2 separate regions of the Homo sapiens genome follow, and region 2 is linked to region 1. The links come from fine-mapping of genetic effects on gene expression. Tissue or cell type: sun-exposed skin. Region 1 holds a variant in brackets; the other region holds the start of a gene. All regions are shown on one strand. Distances are between the middles of the regions.

Region 1 (2,755 bases):
AGATCTTCACTGAAGTACAACTGGACTTATTTTTAGAAAAACTGCTCTGTTAAGAAGACCTTCGTGCCTGATGAAGTTAGTTATTCTGATAAATTACAGCTTCTACGAAGAAACCACACCCCTCTGAGTACGGATGGAAGTTGGAAAATTCATAGAAAGCTGTCATTTCCTGGCAGAGGCCTGGAAAACCTCATTTAACAGAGATGTCTTTGGGTTCCTGCTTAAGCCCAAGCGAAGGATCCCGATGCCCCCTCCCCAGCTGGGAAGAGGAGCTGGTGGCGTGAGTTGGCACAGAGCCGCACCTTTCTTTCTCCTCCTGTATCCTCCCGCAAGCTCTGAAGACCACTCTGTTTCTTTGAGCAGGATCAGTTGTAACTAGAAGTGGGTAGGATTTGAAAAGGGCTGGTTAAGTGTTTAAAACTGGGGCAGCTTTCCTGCCATTTTCCAGTTCTTTTAGATGTGCAGGGATGGAGAATGGCTGTTTTTGTTGGGGTTTTCTCTTTGATCCTGGTTCAGACGGGGCCCTCTGAAATTTCTCGCCCTGATCTTTTGTTCTCTATGAAAACCAGGAATTGCACGGATGGTGTAGAAAGTCCCCGTAGGTGGCAAAGCATCTCTGCTGTGTTGAAATGACACACTTAGAAAAGTGTCAGAAAATGGAGTTGCCATTGCTCTGGCCCCCCAGGACCTGTGGCTCAGCCTCCATTGGGCCTTTGTGTCTGGGCCAGACCCTCCAGGCAAGCCCCCAGTGAGGCTCTTGGGCCCGTGATTGCAGGGGCGCCTTGCCATCCCCCGTGTCCTGCCCTGGTTCTGCTAGTGGAGCAAGAAGCTGATCAGCCTTTGTGTTTTCAGATTTCTTCTCTCCGTTAAGGTAACCTTGTTCTTTAAACCAGCTTGCTTTCAAAGTTGTTTTCCTAATAATATCAAAAGGGGGAAAAAAAGCTGCCTGAAAATCCTTTTTTGGGAAAGAGCCTGGGCATAAATAAATAAATACAACCATACAAAGAAGAAGATTAAAAAAAAAAAAATCAAAGATGGAACTTTCGCATTTGGCCTGAGGTATAAATGGCAGGCTTCTGATGACATGCTTTTAGTTTTTGATTCTCTTTCTTTCCTTTTATGTTCTTGTAATTCCAAATCAGGAACGATGGTGTTTTTTTTTTTTTTTTTCTTTTTTCTTTTTTTTAAACCTTGCCCAATCTTTGGGTGGAGGCTTTGGAAGCCGCACATATTCCACCATTATAGTTACTCAAAGCTGACGCTTCCCGAGGGGTGGCTGCATGCTGGCGACTGTGCCGAGGGTGTGT[G/C]TCCCTGAATCTTTGTGATCTCTCTGAGGTGTGTTAGGCCCCACTTTACAGATGGAAACTGAGACACACAGAGCCGTCAAGCAGCTTGCCCAAGGTCACACACCTTGTCAGTGGTCAAGCTGGGATCCAAAACCAGCAGCCTGGCTCTGGGATTCTAAGCTCTCTGTTGTGCTGCTCCTTGAATATATTAAAAGGCCTACTATGTGCAGGAACTGGGTTGGCACTGGCAGGAAGGCAAGTTCGGGAAGGAGATAGTTACATGGCTGTGTGGCTTCAGCTGGGGAGAGGGGAACACCCAGGAGGGCTTCTTGGAGGAGGCGGCCAGTAAGATGAGGTTGAAGATAGGTAGGATTTAGTAGGGCACAGTGAGGTGCAAGATCAGGTAGAACTGGCTTTAGTCCTGACTCTGGGGCTTCACATCTAACAGCACAGGACCAGCCACTCCCTCACAGACTTGTTTATTTATTATTATTGTTATTATTTTTGAGACAGACGGAGTCTCGCTGTGTTGCCCAGGCTGGAGTGAAGTGGCACAACCTTAGCTCACTGCAACCTCCACCTCCCAGGTTCAAGCAATTCTCATGCCTCAGCCGCCCAAGTAGCTGGGATTGCAGGCGCCCACTGCCACGCCTGACTAATGTTTGTATTTTTAGTAGAGACAGGGTTTCATCATGTTGGTCAGGCTGGTCTCGAAGTCCTGACCTCAGGTGATTTGCCCACCTTGGCCTCCCAGAGTGCTGGAATTACAGGTTTGAGCCACCGTGCCCGGCCTCCCTCAGACTTGTTAGGAGACAAGGTGAATGGCTGGCATGGAAGATGCCCTGCACATAGTAGGTGCTCAGGAAACGTTAGTGGTGCTCTCCCCCTTTCCAATGGACAGTCAGCAATATGGGTTGGACAAGTATGTTCTGTAATCCGAGGTTGTGTGCCCTCTGGCTGGCCCACAAAATTTGAATTAATGGCTCGTATTTATAAATGGGGAGATTCCACACCAAACCCCACATTTCCAGCTTTTCTTGAAAACTCAGATCTGGTGACTGCAGCCTGCACTTCCCACTCTGCCATCCCGGGCTGAGCGAGGAGTGCCCGTCTCCAGAGACAGTGTGCCAAGGGGCCCTCCTCCTATCAAATGCCCTCCTGTCTCTCTCTTCCTACCTGGCCCCCCGTGCAGGCCACAGAGCGTGGTGCTGCAGGTGAACTCTGCTGCGGTGGGAACGAGTTGGCATCGACTCCCTCGTGGCTGGCTGCTGGGTTTCGTGTGGACAGAGACATTCATCTTAGAACAATGCAGACACTTAGGAAAACAAGCACAAGGCGGTCTTTTTCCCTTAATCACCCATCTCATGAAATCAAGCCCCAGTCCCTTGGAAGCTCACACCCTCCACACCCTCCAGACACTGAGAGAATGCATGCCAGCATGCCTGTGCCAGCGCGCCTGTGCCAGCACA
Region 2 (2,500 bases), 64 kb before region 1:
CTGGGTATCTAGGCTGGGCATGGTGGCTCACACCTATAATCCCAGCACTTTGGGAGGCCGAGGCAGGCGGATCACCTGAGGTCAGGGGTTCGAGACCAGCCTGGCCAACATGGCAAAACCGCATCTCTACTAAAAATACAAAAATTACCCGGTCGTGGTGGCGTGCACCTGTAATCCCAGCTACTCAGGAGGCTGAGACAGGAGAATCGCTTTAACTCAGGAGGTGGAGGTTGCAGTGAGCCGAGATTGTGCCACTGCACTCCAGCCTGGGCAACAAAGCAAGACTACGTCTAAAAAAATAAAATAAAATAAAACAAAACAAAATAAAATAAAATAAAATAAAATAAAATAAAATAAAATAAAATAAAATAAAATAAAATAAAATAAAAATAGCCCTGTCTGGCAGTCCTCGGGATGAAGCCGTTTCCTCTGCTTCCAACACATGCGAGGCCTGTCTCCCCTCCTCTCCCCTCCCTGGCACCCCACACTGTCCCCAGGGCCTGCTCTTCTGCTCACCTCATGGTACCGGCCTGCAAGCCATTTCCTGGGGCCTCCCCGTCGCCTCTTCCAGAAACAACTCCTGGAACTCCCCTTGGAGGTCAGGCCAATGACCTGTGCCCCGCATTGCCCTCCATCCTCTAAGCTTCCCGTGGGTAGGGACAATTCCCAGTTCTGAAGGGCTCCCCCTGCCCCGGGCCTGGCTCTTGGCAGAAGCTTAACAACAGACCGGCCACGTTCGTGTGACCTGATTCTCTCCGGCTTTCAGGACGTCCTGAGGCTGCACCCACGTGGCAATGGTGTCTGTCGCGCTGTCGCCTGGATCCGGCACCACTAGCGGAGCCGAGCAGAGCCCAGGGCTCCAACGCGTAGGGAAAAGGCTGCGCCGCTCCCGGGGTGGCCCCACGCCCCTTCTCTGAGCTTGAGCGGCGGCGCGGGACGGGGACGGCTCTGGCCGGGACCAGCAGGCCTCGGGCATCCGGGACGCCGGGGCCGCGCTCCAGGCCAGGGGCGGGGGCGGGACCGGGGCGGGGGCCGGCGGCGGGGCCGCGCCCTCGGCCTCTCCCCGGGGCGACCGGGCGGCTCCACACGCGCTGCGCCCGCCGCCGGCCCCACGCGCGGCCCATGTCCTCCGCGCCGCGCTCGCCCACCCCGCGGCCCCGCAGGATGAAGAAGGACGAGTCGTTCCTGGGCAAGCTGGGCGGCACCCTGGCCAGGAAGCGGAGGGCGCGCGAGGGTGAGTGCGCGCCCGCGCCCGCCGACCCCCGGGGACCTGCCCGGCGGTGCCCGCCCTCGGCCCTAGAGCCCCACGAGGCCGCCCCCGCCCTCCCCCACGCACCCCGCCCGGCCCACGCGGCTGCGCGACCTTCGGGACAGGCCAGGCCTTTGACCCAGGACCCGTAAACAACGGCCGGGACCTGGCGCGTGGGGCCGCGGTGGCCTCCGGAGTCTGCCAAACGCGCGTGCGGGCGCCTGCGCGGCGGGGACCTCGGGCCACCGTGCGGGGCCCGCGCCTGCTCTGCCTGCCGGGTGTTCAGCTCTTCCCTGGGCCAGCGGCATAGCCAGCCGCGCGGGGTGACCGTTCATTCCATGAGCAGTGACGCTCACGTGTGCAGGGCACTCTGGGCAGACACGGCCTGGGGGACCCACTACTGGGTGTTGCGCGGGCGCCCTGCAGGGTGCGGGGCTCAGGGCGTGCAGGGCTGAGGCCTGGGAGGCCTGCGAGCAAGAATTGCAGAGATCCCATTAAAAATTTTTTTTTTTAAATTTTTTACTGCGTGTGCTCACGAAACACTACCAACCTCGTACGTTTTAAAGATTGTTAGAGTTGCAAGGGATAGTCTGGTGTCTTTAAGTGTACCGCTTGCCCAGGGCCTCCTGGGAGATACATTCTGGAATTTTCTGCTTGGGTGGGGAGGTTCTGCCCCGGGACCATGCCCTATAGTGAGATTTCGGATTGGTGAGAGGTGAGGGGAGCTGCTGTGGAAAGGCAGATGGAGAAAGGCCGGCCTCAGGTGGGTCCCCGGGAAGGAGCCCTCCCATAGCGGGTATGCAGTACGGTTTCCTTAAACCACCTGGGCCTGACATATCCCCTGGGAACTCTTCCTGTGCCTCCAGGGATTAGTGTACCCCGGGATGCAGGTCCCCCATTCATTTCTTCCCTGGGACTCTTGTATTCCTAGGGATGTGTGTGCCCCGGGAAGACATATGACAGATTTGCCTCTAGGCATGTGTGTGCCCCCATGCACCTGCTCCCCAGGATTTTTGTACAGTGCAGGGAACGCTTGGTTCCCCAGACATTTTCTCCCAGGGATGCCTGTGCCCCCAGGGATGCGTGTCTTCCCACCCGTGATCCTGTTCCAAGAGGGCAGGGTCTTGTCCCCTTCAGTAGGTCTCCTGGCGGATAGGTCACTCTTCTCTCAAGCCTTACACTGGAGGACCCACTGTAGCTTGTATTGGTCGGTGTTGGTCACGTCTCCTAAATGACATGATTAGTGGCTGT

The links. PIP is the estimated chance that this variant, and not a neighbour inherited with it, causes the effect.
Region 2: PARVB starts here. The variant in region 1 is fine-mapped to the expression of PARVB in sun-exposed skin (GTEx, PIP above 0.99). The same link has a PIP of 0.9 or more in unexposed skin.

The regions. Positions count from the first base shown.
Region 1 is chr22:44,086,694-44,089,448 of GRCh38, forward strand. All of the region lies in intron 1 of PARVB (parvin beta), which reads left to right. Among named protein-coding and RNA genes, the nearest start is that of TRU-TCA2-1, 63 kb to the right of the region's middle. The variant G/C (reference allele first, on the strand shown) is at 1,308.
Region 2 is chr22:44,023,218-44,025,717 of GRCh38, forward strand. It overlaps PARVB (parvin beta), which reads left to right and starts at 1,085. Exons shown (of 13, transcript NM_013327.5): 1 at 1,085-1,234. The coding sequence starts at 1,123. RefSeq lists silencers at 953-1,062, 1,093-1,212, 1,283-1,332, 1,383-1,592 and enhancers at 2,363-2,442, 2,453-2,500.